Homo sapiens: one gene and its partner. The protein of the gene in region 2 purifies or fractionates together with the protein of the main gene of each other region. This does not show direct contact. Each region holds a gene or a part of one and is shown on either strand. Other genes may lie near its edges.

Region 1 (7,034 bases), on a different chromosome or scaffold from region 2:
GCAGAAGACTGTTCAGGAACATCTGACAGCATTGCCGCCTCCTCCTCAGTAGCAGCTCACCCACCAGGAGTTCAGCCACAGCAACCACCATATACAGAAGCTAAGATACAAGCAGGTCAGACTGAAAGTCAGCTGTATCAATAGTACCAGCAACAGGCTAGCTATGGTGCACCGTGTCTGCGGGCTCTACCTCAGCAGCCTCAACAGTATGGTATTCAGTATTCAAAAAGCCAGAGTCAGCAGACTGGACTCCAAACAACCTCAGCAGTTCCAAGGATATGGCCAGCAACCAACTACCCAGGCACCAGCTCCTGCCTTTTTGGTCAGCCTCAACAACTGCCTGCTCAGCTGCCACACAGTACCAGGCAAGCAATTATCCTGCACAAATTTATACTACCCAAACTTTTCAGCCTACTAATTATACTGTGGCCCCTGCCTCTCAACCTAGAATGGCTCCAAGCCAACCTGGGGCCTATAGACCAAGATCAAGTTTTACTTCACTTCCTGTAAGTAGCATGACCCCTCCTCCAACTGGGCCTAATCCTTATATGTCCTCCCTTTGGTCAGGGCTATACCAAACCTGGACCTGGTTATCGATAACGAGGCTTATCTACACCAATTAATGTAGCTGCTAGCTATTGGCCTCCCAAAAGACTCCAGTACTGTTTTAATCTGTAATGAAGTTCACAAATTTTAAAAGCAGAGCATTTGTTATATCTTTGTTGCTGTTAATTGAAAGTATAATTTGCTGGAACACAAAGACCAAAATCAAAGTTCTTTCCTCCCTGCTTAAAAATATAGCAACTTCTTAGTTATTTTGGAACACTACTCTTACATGTATGTAAAGTGATTGACCTAGCTTCCCTTGTCCAGAGGATATTAAAATGCTAGTGTAAGGTTTAGTCATCTTACTTGGCTTTCTGCTATTAACATGATGTACTAAAAGTAGAGCCCTTTTAGAATACGACTAGATGTCATGTATAAAATGTAAGACTGATAGATTAATAAAGATGATTGAATTAAAAAAACCTATCTTTTCAGGGTCTGACAGGGAAGTGTAATGCTTCCTTGTATTTATATTATTGATTTTATTATTCACATGCTTTAAAAGTCAGGAAAAACAGACTTACTTAATCATTACTCAAGTTCAGAAGTTAGATAAAGGATTCCCAAACATTTACATAGTCTCTTCCTTGAGCTCCCCCTCATTCACTTCAAAGTGAAGAATTTAACATTGATGAACAACAATCTGTGTATGTGTCATTCCAGAACTGAGTGACTCAACTGGCTAAGTTCTCCCTTTCGCAACTCATCTCCTGAGTTTCTTGTAACCCAGGTACTACCCTTATACTGACCAGTTGATCAATTCCAAACTACCAGTAACCATGTGAAATGTCCAAAACAAATCCTCACTCCTGCAAACATGTCCCAAGATTATCCCTATAATGAATCCAGTTCTAGGGCCTTTTCAGCACTTCAAATCAAATGCAGGGCAAGAGAGGGAAAGGAACTTATATAAGACAGGATCCGACATGATAATTTGAAAAGCCTAACACTAATTACTCATCTTACTACCTCTTCACTTGCCATCCTCCCACACTTTATCCAAGGCTGACACTTAACTAGTACCATTCTCTAGCACCTCTGATTTCTTCCTGGACCTCTCCCAACCTGATCTCTCTAGCTACCATACTATTTTTTTACTACCTTACAATCCAATTCACAAATCAGACAGACAATATGTTATCTCTATTATCTTTTCAAACATCCATGGCCTAATTCCCTGGCAGCCAATCTTCTGTCCAGATTACTTATCAACTAATCACAATTTATATCCAAAAGTTGTCTCTCAATTTTCTTGACCTCCCTATCGTGAGCTACCATTGACCATTGGATCCATAGGAAAGCTCTCTCCTCCGGTTGTCCTCTGTAACTCTATTCTATCCCAAATGTCTTCCTTCTTCCTTCTCTACCTTAAGTCCCCTGGCAATAGGTTTTCTCCAAGTTTCAGACTTTGTTTTTTACTTCTTTTTCTATACTCTAGCAGCTCAGGTTTCAACTCTTTTATCACCAGCTTTGACTGGTCCTAAAGAGTAATGTGTTCCTATTTCCTATTAGACATTTCTCCCTGCATTCATTCACTAAGCATTCACCAAGCATTCACCAATTACCCATTATATGCTATTTGGTGTGTTAAATGTTGAGGATATAGAGATCAATAAGGCCTATAAAGATCATCTCTGCCTTCAAGGATCAAAGACAAGTAAACAAAAATGTTTAAAACAATGTGATCAAGGTGGTAATTCTCACACAGATATACACAGAAAAAAAAACACATCATAATGATATATGGTAACAATGGTTTCCTATATTGAGCTTGCACACATTATTTTAATTAAGTCTCATAACAATGCTAGGAGATATAAAAGGTAAAATTCCTTAAATAATTTAATACCAGATTGTACAACTAGTAAGTGACTAATTCAGGATTTGAAGTCAAATTTGTCTGGGCCAAAACCTATGTTTCTTCTCCTATGCCCAGTGAAAAGAAATCTAGACCTGATAAGTCAGGAGAGAATTCTGTTAAGAACATCTATTTAAGATCAATCAGTATTTCAAGAGAATGTTTAAAGGCATAGTCAAGAAGAGATAACTCAGGGAAATGACTAGTTTGGGACAGAAGTTACAACTTGCAACCCCAAAACCCTCAAACTCAATCTAAAAATCAAGCTCAGCATCTTCTTCAAAGAAGTACTGTACTGTATTTCATTACAGACATACCTAGTGTTCAAATTTTTAAATTTCTGAAATCGCAGTGTAGACATCATAGTGTGTCACAGTTAATTGGCAGTATTGTTTCTTTTCTTAGTGGAACATAAAATAATGGTGCCTGAGAATTTCTGGCTTCTTAGATTTGATAACAAATGGTAACTTTCTCCTAAACTTAATCCCCACATTTATATCCCTTGAATCATCAAGATCTATTTTTTTCCATTGTATCCGTTCTAATCATCCATTATTTTCCATTTTCCCTGCCACCAATCTGGTTTGAGGTAGTATCAATTGTGCACAGATTAAATACTCTCCTCACTGGTCTCTCTGAATCAGTTTTCCCCTATTCTAAATACTCAAATACAGCACTATGGATCAGTCTTTCAAAACCACCACTGCATGCATGCCACTCTCCCTCTCTCAAATTGGTTCCTCACTGCATGTAAGGGAGATTCCAATCTAGTTTCCAAGACTTCCATAAACTGGCCTAAGCTGACCTTCACATAGTTTCTTTGCTATTAATCAATAAAAGCCTTCTACTCTAATCAAGCTCTTCTATTTATGGTCTCTTCAAATGCTCTAACCTCTGTCTATTAACCTCATGATTCTTCCCATCTGAAATTCACCCAACTCTTATACTATTCAAATCAAATGTCAAGGCTCAACTCAAGCTTCATAACCTCCATGAAATCTCCCTCAACCATACCAAGCCACTTCTTCTGAAGTTCTATAACATGTACTCCCTTGAATATTGTTGTATTTAACTTTTCATGGGAGTTTATGTCTTATTTCCACAATGAAATTAAAAGGATCAAAGGCAGAGACTATGTTTAACAATTATGCAGCATAGTTTAGTGGTTAATTACACAACTTCTGGAGCCAAACTACATAGGTTTGACTCTCAGCTCTGTCATCTTTCTGTGTGACCTTGGGCAAGTTACTTAACTTCTCTGTTTCAGTTTCCTCATTGTGTAAAATGGAGTCAATAACAGTATATACCTCAAAGAGTTGTGAGAATTAAATCGTGTAGGACCTGTTCTTGATACATACTATGCACTCTGTAAGTGTTAATTGCTATAAATCCATTAATAAGAAAAATCACCACTTAAGTGGTGATAAGTATCATAAGTGTTAGCTACCTTATGTATGTATGTTACATAAGTGTTAGCTATTATTATTGTTATTTAGAATCTCCATGTTCAGCCGGGCGTGGTGGCTCATGCCTGTAATCCCAGCACTTTCTGAGGCCAAGGCAGGTGGATCACCTGAGGTCAGGAGTTTGAGACCAGCCTGGCCAACATGGTGAAACCCCGTCTCTACTAAAAATAAAAATTAGCCGAGTGTGGTGGCGGGTGGCTGTAATCCCAGCTACTCAGGAGGCTGAGGCAGGAGAACCGCTTGAACCTGGGAGGCGAGGTTGCAGTGAGCCGAGATTGCAACTTCCATTCTAGCCTGGGCAACAAGAGTGAAACTCCATCTCAAAAAAAAAAAAAAGAATCTCCATGTTCATGGTACCCAAAATAATAAGTACATAGAATGTACTCAGTATTTATTTGATGGAGGAAGGAAGAAAAGGTCTTAACATGAGCAGCAGCTTTTTAGGAAAGTGTCCATTTCTGACATTCTGGGGAGGAGTTGAGAAATCTGTCCAGGAATGGCAAGAAATACCTATTTGGGGGTCTACAAAAGCTAATCAATCTCAGGAGGAATTAACAGGAAAATGAAAGGGAAAGACATTCCATAGGCTAGCTGTTTATAAACGTACATATTTCATGTACACCTGCACTACACGGTTCTGTAGTAGCTTTGCGGTTTTAATGGCATGAGAGGCATACCAAGCTTCTTGGTTGAGTTTAGGATAGACAGGTACTTACTGAGCATGCCTCTATAATTGAGGTCCATATCCCGGCTCTCAGATCGCACTTTAATGGCATCCAGGATGGCATCAGGAGACAGCAGTCCTGAAGGCCTCACAACATTCAGAAGCTCTGTGAGGCTCATGAGAGGTAAACGCACAGCCTGCATGATTTCAGCATGATTCTCCTTTGAATTGTGCTTACACCAGTTTAATAAGGCTAGGAAAATATCTTTTTCGGGAGCTGCAAATGAGTCTCTTAACACGATGTTTAAAAGTGCTGTCTGAAAAGGATAAAAAGGTAAAATTCCAGTTATATGAAGTTCAACCACTGCATGACCAATCAGTAAAAGCTTACAGGACAAGTATAACTTAGCCAATTAACTCTTTTTGACCCTCTCCTTCCCTTATGCTTTGTGCCACATATTCTCCTACTCATTATGGCTGTGTAAACAACCAAGACGGTAGCACCATTCTTTTATGTTCAGGTATCTTGTACCACTACATCAAACATTTAATCTTTCCAAACACATCTGCATTCATCTTTTTTAAAACAGCAAAAAGAAAAACGCCAAAGTGAAAAGCTGTCAATACATTCAGATTCTTCAAGAGAGTGTACATTGTTAAGTTAGAAAGACATATTTGGCATTTAAAATTCAAATTTTGTTCCACAGTATTACTTCACTACCATACTTTTGGCTCTCAGATCTCCAAACTGACCTCCAGGAACAATGTTGCAACCCTCAAAGATCATTGTCTTTAAAAATTAAGTAGAAAAAAATGAAATAGGATAACACAGATCTTAATTTACACTCAAATCAAGATATGTAGCTTTTCAATAGATTTTTCTCATTAGAAATATCCAGGTTCTAGAAGGAACACAACAAGGCAAATGGAGAGACAATCACTACCCAGAGTTCAAAGGAAGATTTGAGCAAAACAGTTTTACTCTAGCTATAATACTGAATTTTAAGCCAGCAAAAAAAGCAGGGACTTAAAGACATCAAATGTTGCATCAGATCTCCTCTATGAATTTGCCTGCTTGCTCTAAGGAATTATTAGTCACACTCTCTGTCAGAGAAAAACAAAACCAAAAGGTAGTATGCAATACCAAAAAGGACCCTATTTGATTGTCACTACCTTGAAAACAACCACACAGCAGCACAGTCTCTTTTGCACATAAAACTTACCTGAAGAACCTTAAAAGAAAACACAACCAACCAGCCCCTCTCTTTTATGATCTAGAGTCCTGGTAGCTAGATGCAAGTGGCTAGACCAGATAACCAATGATAACGCTTTGATACCAATGATTTTTTTTATTATTCTTAGTCCATTGCTATACTTCTACAGTATAGGTATAAATAAAACAATGCATGCCTATAAATTACTTGTAGACAAATGACACACCTTAGAAAGGGAGAGGAAACCTTCACTTGAGAGGACTTCCTGAGCATTCCTATCCATAAACATGCAGCACATACAAGTTAACTTGGGAAGTGAGTAGAGACTGGCAACATCAAAAGTCATGCAGACATTCTGAATGTTAAGTATGGTGCAGAGATACTCAGAGGTAGAATCCTCTAGCTCTGGAAATCCATATTTATGAGCCAGGCTCAAAAAGTCCAGCAGCACCTCCTCCTTCTCATCTGTCAGCGTTGCCCGCCCAGTGTAGATATATTTGAGTAGCATTGTGAATGCTTCTGCAGTGGTGTCTTGGAGAGGAATTTCTGCTTCAGGCTGAGACTCTCGCATTCCACCATATAATAATGCTCTGCACATCAGGGAAGAAACACATGAAGAAACCCTCAAATAGGATTTGCTACAAAATATTGGAAATAACAGTTATCAACATTATGCAAATATAAATTTTTTTAATGACACAAAGATCCAAGTGAAAAAATGCAAAGTAATCATTTAAAATGGTTCTTTACAGGACACAAGAGGAATGATTTTAAAACTATTTGAATTAATTCTGTAAGCCACTGAACTAATGAGATACTCTGAAAGCTCAAGATATGTGACAGATATTAAATAGAAAGATGAGAGTGATCTTTTGAGAGGCACAATGAAGTTGATATAAAGATGTTAAAGGTCAATAAGGCAATTTAAAAAGTAAAACTCTATAGGAAAAGATATAATCAGATAAACACTAATATGATGCCATTCTCCCCTGTAAGACTGGCAGAAATTAAAAGGCTTGTTAATATCAGTGCTGCAAAAGCAATGGAAAAACATGTTCTTTGATATGCTGCTTTGAGAGTATAAATGGCAGCCCTTTATGGAAAGTAATTTAGTAGCATCTAGTCAAATCTAAAATGTGCATACCCTTCAACTCAGTAATCTCTCTTTTAGGACTCAATTCTAGGGAAGTAATACAGTAAAGAAAAATGTGTAAGAAAACATACTG
Region 2 (7,626 bases):
ATCCCAGGACTTTGGGAGGCCAAGGTGGGCAGATCACTTGAGGTCACGTGTTCAAGACCAGCCTGGCCAACATGATGAAACCTCATTTCTACTAAAAATACAAAAAATAGCTGGGTGTGGTGGCGGGCGCCTGTAGTCCCAGCTACTCGGGAGGCTGAGGCAGGAGAATCGCTTGAACCAGGGAGGCAGAGGTTGCAGTGAGTTGAGATCGTGCCACTGCACTCCAGCTTGGGTAATGAGTGAGATTCCATCTCTAAAAACAAAAAAAGAATACATATGTTATCCTGAATACACTTGTTATAATACTGCAGTGAATACCCTGTGCCTTTTTTCCTTTTTTTTTTTTTTTTTTTTGAGACGGAGTCCCTGTCTCCCAGGCCGGAGTACAGTGGCGTGATCTCCACTCACTGCAAGCTCCGCCTCCTGGGCTCACACCATTCTCCTGCCTCAGCCTCCTGAGTATCTGGGACTACAGGCGCCTGCCACCACGCCCAATTTTTTTGTATTTTTAGTAGAGACAGGGTTTCACTGTGTTAGCCAGGATGGTCTAGATCTCCTGACCTCGTGATCCGCCCGCCTCAGCCTCCCAAAGTGCTGGGATTATAGGCATGAGCCACCGTGCCCGGCCTTCCTTAGCATTCATTTATTTACAAATAACGAGAGGTCATACTATCTCATTATTATTACTATTTATTTATTTCATTTTTTGAGACGGAGACTCTGTCTCAAAAAATAAATAAATAAAATAAAAAAATAAAGCCCATGCTTGTCACTCTACCGTGGAGAGGCAACATAGCATAGTGGTTTAGAGAACACACACTGCCTTGGGTTGAATCCTAGTTTTGTTATTTACTTTGTGACTTTAGGTAAATTATCTCATCTTGGCTGGGCATGGTGGCTCACACCTGTAATTCCAGCACTCACGCCTGTAATTCCAGCACTCACGCCTGTAATTACAGCACTCACGCCTGTAATTCCAGCACTGGGCATGGTGGCTCACGCCTGTAATTCCAGCACAAGGCAGGGGATGGCTTGAGCTCACAAGTTCGAGACCAGCCTGGGCAACATAGCGGAAACCTACCTCTACTATAATAAAAATACAAAAGTTAGCCAGGTGTGGTACATGCTACTTGGGAGGCTGAGGTGAAAGGATGGCTTGAGCCTGGGAGAAGGAGGTTGCAGTGAGCCAAGATTGTGCCACTGCTCTCCAGCCTGGGCAATAAAGCCAGACCTTGTCTCAGAAAAAAACCCATCTTTCCTTTTTTTTTTTTTTTTTTTTTTTTGAGACGGCCTCTTACTCTGTCACCAGGCTGGAGTGCAATGGCACAATCTTGGCTCACTGCAACCTCCGCCTCCCAGGTTCAAGTGATTCTCCTGCCTCAGCCTCTCAAGTATCTGGGATTACAGGTGTGTGCCACCACGCCTGGCTAATTTTTTGTATTTTTAGTAGAGAAGGGGTTTCACCGTGTTAGCCAGGATGGTCTCGAACTCCTGACCTCATGATCTGCCCGCCTCAGCCTCCCAAAGTGCTAGGATTACAGGCGTGAGCCACCGTGCCTGGCCAAAAAAAAAACATCTTTCTGAGTCTGTTTTTTGTTTTTTTATTTTTTTTTCTTGAGACAGAGTTTCACTCTTGTTGCCCAGGCTGGAGTGTAATGGCACGATCTCGGGTCACTGTAATCTCCGCCTCCTCGGTTCAAGCAATTCTCCTGCCTCAGCCTCCTGAGTAGCTGAGATTACAGGAGCCTGCAACTATGCCCGGCTAATTTTTATGTTTTTTTAAGCAGAGATAGGGTTTCACCATGTTGGCCAGGCTGGACTCGAACTCCTGACCTCAGGTAATCCACCCGCCTTGGCCTCCCAAAGTGCTAGGATTATAGGTGTGAGCCACCATGCCTGGCCTTGAGTCTGTTTTTTTGTGACTAAAAATAGCTTCTACATCATAGGGATTGTTGTGATGATTAAATATGGATTAATCATACAAAATTCTCTAGCAGGCCGGGCACGGTGGCTCACGCCTGTAATCCCAGCACTTTGGGAGGCCGAGGCAGGTGGATCACCTGAGGTAACAAGTTCGAGATTAGCTTGGCCAACATGATGAAACCCCTTCTCTACTAAAAAATACAAAAATTAGCCCGATGTGGTGGCGGGTGCTTGTAATCCCAGCTACTCGGGAGGCTGAGGCATGAGAACAGCTTGAGCTTGGGAGGCAAAGGTTGCAGTGAGCCAAGATCCCACCACTGCACTCTAGCCTGGCAACAAAGTGAGACCCTGTCTCTCTCACACACACACACACACACACACACACACACACACACACACACACAAGTCTCTAGTGCATATATTATCAATATCAGTAACTGTTATTGTCATTATTACTCTACCTTCTAATAAACATTTAAAGTGAGCTTCACTTTCAGGAATCTAACAGCCCGGGTAGTGGTGGAGCACAAAGTAATCAACAGTGACTCACAGCAGTGGGGATAAATGCTTAATGGGTTAAATACTGTAGCTGGAAGGCAGACAGCAGTGGTCAAAGCAGGCTTTTCTTAGAAGGCAAATCCTGAATCCTGAAAAACTCCTGGGAGTTAGTTTACTAAGTGAAGAGACAGGACATCCTAGGCGGAGACTGGTTGGTGCACAGGCCAAGAGGAGGGTGAAGTCTGGTTTGCAATATGCACAGCTTACCCTCAAGTGGTGGGTGATGAAACTGCACAATAACTACCAGCATTTACATACTCTGCCTTGCCAGGCACCAAAGTAGGTGCTATTGTGATCTCCACTTGAGAGGGGGTTCTAACCCCCCTCCCCGCAAAAAAAGCCAAGGTGGGCGCAGAAGGAAGTCAGACCACTAGCATTTAAGTTGTCCCAGATGGCCGAGTATGTAGCTCACGCCTTTAATCTTAGCACTTTGGGAGGGCGAGGCAGGTGGATCACTTGAGCTCAGGGGTTGGAGACCAGCCTGGCCAATATGGCGAAACCCCGTCTCTACAAAAAATAGAAAAATTAGGCCGGGCGCGGTGGCTCACACCTGTAATCCCAGCACTCTGGGAGGCCAAGGTGGGTGGATCATGAGGTCAGGAGTTCAAGACCAGCCTGGTGAAGATGGTGAAACCCCGTCACTACTAAAACTACAAAAATTAGCCAGGCGCGGTGGCAGCCACCTATAATCCCAGCTACTCGGGCAGGAGAATCGCTTAAACCCGGGGCAGGCAGAGGTTGCAGTGAGCTGAGATTGTGCCACTGCACTCCAGCCTGGGTTACAGAGTGAGATTTTGTCTAAAAAAAAAAAAAAAAAAAAAAAAAAAAGGAGAGAGAGAGAGAAAAGAAAAAGAAAAATTAGCCGGGTGTGGTGGCATGTGCCTGTAGTCCCAGCTACTTGGGAGGCTGAAGTGGGAGGATCGCTTGAGCCCAGGAGGCTGAGGTTGCAGTATGTCAAGATTGCACCACTGCACTCCAGCCTGGGCGACAGAGCCAGATCCTGTCTCAAAAACAAAAATAGCTGGGTGTGGTGGCTCACGCCTGTAATCCCAGCACTTTGGGAGGCCGAGGTGGGTGAATCACCTAAGGTCAGGAGTTCGAGAACAGCCTGACCAATATGGAGAAACCTCATCTCTACTAAAAATACAAAAATGGCTAGGCTCGTTGGCTCACGCTTGTAATCCCAGCACTTTGGGAGGCCGAGGCAGGTGGATCATATGAGGTCAGGAGTTCAAGACCAGCCTGACCAACATGATGAAACCCTGTCTCTACTAAATATACAAAAATTAGCCGGGCATGGTGGCGTGGGACTGTAATCCCAGCTACTCAGGAGGCTGTGGCAGGAGAATCGCATGCACCCAGGAGGCGGAGGTTGCAGTGAGCCGAGACCGCGCCACTGCACTCCAGCCTGGGCGACAGAGCGAGACTCCCTCTTAAAAAAAAAAAAAAAAAAAAAAAAAGCTGGGCATGGTGGTGGGCGCCTGTTATCTCAGCTATCCGGGAGGCTGAGGCAGGAGAAATGCTTGACCCGGGAAGCGGAGGCTGCAGTGAGCAGAGATCGCGCCACTGCACTATTGCACTCCAGTCTGGGCAACAAGAGTGAAACTCCATCTCAAAAATAAAAAATAAAAAAAAAAGTAAGTTGTCCTAGATGGTGGAAGTGTCACGGATTTTTAAGCAGGGAGGTGAAGACAGGACTACATGATTGTGTTTTGCAAAAATCCCTTTGGCAGTCAGGCAGAGGATGGCTCAATTCCCTAAGGAGAATGAGTGGGCCAAAGAGCAAGACATTTCTTCTGCTCCTGGCAAACATTGCCAAAGAACTTCCCAAAGCATTGCGCTAAGGGACCATATTCCTTCTAATTTCTAAGGAGGGTGAGGCAGGATGAAGTTCCGGGAACTGGCTTCATTCCGCCCACGGGTTTCAGAGCCGCACCAGCTTTCTTCCCCACAGCAGCCTGGCGCCTTGGCTTGGTGGGTTGCCTCCCTGTTCCCACCCACGGAAAGTCCTGGCAGCAGGGCCAGAAGTTTTATGGTTCTCAGCGGCACCCGTCGACATCCGCCCCCACGTGACCCAAACAGATCCGGCACTTCCGCTTCCCCTCGGCTTTCTTCTCGTCGGTGTTCCCGGCTGCTATAGAGCCGGGTGAGAGAGCGAGCGCCCGTCGGCGGGTGTCGAGGGCGGGTTGCCTCGCGCTGACCCTTCCCGCCCTCCTTCTCGTCACACACCAGGTCCCCGCGGAAGCCGCGGTGTCGGCGCCATGGCGGAGCTGACGGCTCTTGAGAGTCTCATCGAGATGGGCTTCCCCAGGGGACGCGCGTAAGGGAGTTCCCCAACCCCGGCCTGCGGGTGTGGGGGGTCGCGGACCTGTCTCGGCCTTTGCCCCAGCCTGACCGTCACCATGGCTCGTGGGCGCTATTCATGGTGTTTCTGCCCCCAGGGAGAAGGCTCTGGCCCTCACAGGGAACCAGGGCATCGAGGCTGCGATGGACTGGTAAGCGCTCGTCCCGGGTGGCGGAGAATTGGGGGCTGGCGGGAGGGGCAGCCTCAAAGCTAACCTCCCCGCCCACTTTCCCTGCCAGGCTGATGGAGCACGAAGACGACCCCGATGTGGACGAGCCTTTAGAGACTCCCCTTGGACATATCCTGGGACGGGAGCCCACTTCCTCAGAGCAAGGCGGCCTTGAAGGTCCTGACTGAGGGTCCACGGTGTGATTATTCAGGAGGGTCCGAGGAGAATCTGAAGGGATAATAATACCGATTGTTTGTTTGTAGGATCTGGTTCTGCTGCCGGAGAAGGCAAACCCGCTTTGAGTGAAGAGGAAAGACAGGAACAAACTAAGAGGTACAGTAACAACAATCTCACGTGTCTGAGGGTCGTCTTCCATCTCTCCCCAGTACACGTCTGGTCAAAGAACCTTGACCTTTCCACATTTCCTCTTTCTTGGCATTTTCTTTTCCTTTAATCTACTTTGGGATATATGTCGCCTAATTTTGTTTATTGTAAACTTTACACCTTCCCACTCTGTCCATTTCTCTTGAACTGTTTTCCCTCGGCAACACAGGATGTTGGAGCTGGTGGCCCAGAAGCAGCGGGAGCGTGAAGAAAGAGAGGAACGGGAGGCATTGGAACGGGAACGGCAGCGCAGGAGACAAGGGCAAGAGTTGTCAGCAGCACGACAGCGGCTACAGGAAGATGAGATGCGCCGGGCTGCTGAGGAGAGGCGGAGGGAAAAGGCCGAGGAGTTAGCAGCCAGGTCTGGGCAGGGGAAATGATGGATAGCAGATGAGAAAGAAATCAAGATTTGCTTTGTTGATGTCTGACCTAATTTCTTCTTGTCTACATTTCAGACAAAGAGTTAGAGAAAAGATCGAGAGGGACAAAGCAGAGAGAGCCAAGAAGGTAGGTGACTGAGAAGACGCCACGGGTAATGGAGTGGGCAGGTTAGTAAATCTTTTCCAGCTTCAGAGGGAAAGCATGGGCTTATATGATCTGTTTCACCTGAGGATGGGTGAGTACCTGATTGACTGTTTTACTTTGCCCTTTAGTATGGTGGCAGTGTGGGCTCTCAGCCACCCCCAGTGGCACCAGAGCCAGGTCCTGTTCCCTCTTCTCCCAGCCAGGAGCCTCCCACCAAGCGGGAGTATGACCAGTGTCGCATACAGGTACTGATTCTAATTCTTATCTTCCTCTTGGGACCCCTTTGTTCCGTGTTAAGGTGCCCAGCTCAGAGCTTTTTTCAGTTAACGTGCCCTTTGCCAAATCTCTCCCTTCTTTGTAAATGACTTTTGAAATCCTATCTCTACTCTTGGGAAAGGTATCAAATTTCACCTGCCCCAGTTGTATTTAAACCCATACCTCTCTCTTACTCAGCAGTTACCCTTTTACTTGTTCATGTTTTTATTTGGTTTATTATGTAGCTATCTGGTGATGTGGTATTTATCCAGATTCTTTTGTATAATCTTATCCTTGTCTTTCTTAGGTTGTGAGGGAGCTGGGAGTCTCTCATCCGCACTTAGTAAAGCGGAGCCTAAGTGGCTGTTCATTTGGTGCTTTAAATAGTAGTTGTGCTGGTTCAATCTAAGAAGAAGGGGGCCCAGCTTTAGCTCTTTTCCTTACTTGGGCACCTCATTCAGTTTTGATGCCCACAATACTGAGTATCTCCCTTGCCCTTTAGGTCAGGCTGCCAGATGGGACCTCACTGACCCAGACGTTCCGGGCCCGGGAACAGCTGGCAGCTGTGAGGCTCTATGTGGAGCTCCACCGTGGGGAGGAACTAGGTGGGGGCCAGGACCCTGTGCAATTGCTCAGTGGCTTCCCCAGACGGGCCTTCTCAGAAGCTGACATGGAGCGGCCTCTGCAGGAGCTGGGTATGGCTGCAAGACTAGAAACCAGGACTAGAAACTGGGGGAGTAGGGAGGCATGCCTAGGAAAAGGAGGGATGCAAAGAGAAGGGGCTTTGTGAACATGGTGCAAGGCCAGGAATTTTGGGAGCAAAAACCAAGTATCCTTGTGGTTCAAGCCTGTTTTCTTCCATCTTCAGGACTCGTGCCTTCTGCTGTTCTCATTGTGGCCAAGAAATGTCCCAGCTGAGGGCCTTTGTCCCATTGTCCCTCTGTGACCCCTTCATCTTTGATAAAGCACTGACATCTCCTTCCTAATAAATAGACCCTGAGTTCTGTACATGCCTGACTCCTTCCTGAATGGCTGGGAGGGACAAAACTAAGGCAGAGGAAGAGGCTAAAACGGAACAGTAGACCCTCTTCCTCATCTTTAGTTTCCAACAAAGACACTTGTTTGTAATCTCTGGGTCTGATTAACTGCTGGGGAAGTTGCGGAGGAGAGGTGCTAAAAGGGGTGGAGAGTACATTGGATGGCACCTTTTACTCCTATGGTAAGACAGAAAATAAAAGCCCAGCTGCTGCTTTTTTATTTTTATTTTTGAGACGGAGTCTTGCACTGTTGCCTGGGCTAGAGTGCAGTGGCGCAATCTCAGCTCACTGCAACCTCTGCCTCCCAGGTTCAAGCGATTCTCCTGCCTCAGCCTCCCTAGTAGCTGGGATTACAGGCACCCACCACCACGCCCAGCTAATTTTTTCCATTTTTAGTAGAGACGGGGTTTTGCCATGTTGGCTAGGCTGGT

The links.
Region 1: the proteins of UBXN1 (region 2) and BTBD9 purify together in Homo sapiens (affinity purification with mass spectrometry; 4 studies listed by BioGRID and IntAct, with this or other methods). This does not show direct contact.

The regions. Positions count from the first base shown.
Region 1 is NC_000006.12:38,587,930-38,594,963, forward strand, and holds part of BTBD9 (BTB/POZ domain-containing protein 9), read right to left. Parts: intron 6,447-7,034; exon of another isoform or gene 6,407-6,446; coding exon of another isoform or gene 6,399-6,406; coding exon 6,035-6,398; intron 4,912-6,034; coding exon 4,647-4,911; intron 1-4,646.
Region 2 is NC_000011.10:62,676,040-62,683,665, reverse strand, and holds UBXN1 (UBX domain-containing protein 1), read left to right. Parts: upstream 1-4,592; 5' UTR 4,593-4,742; coding exon 4,743-4,801; intron 4,802-4,922; coding exon 4,923-4,976; intron 4,977-5,064; coding exon 5,065-5,171; intron 5,172-5,257; coding exon 5,258-5,327; intron 5,328-5,547; coding exon 5,548-5,739; intron 5,740-5,833; coding exon 5,834-5,885; intron 5,886-6,031; coding exon 6,032-6,148; intron 6,149-6,660; coding exon 6,661-6,853; coding exon of another isoform or gene 6,854-6,948; exon of another isoform or gene 6,949-7,026; coding exon 7,027-7,076; 3' UTR 7,077-7,166; downstream 7,167-7,626.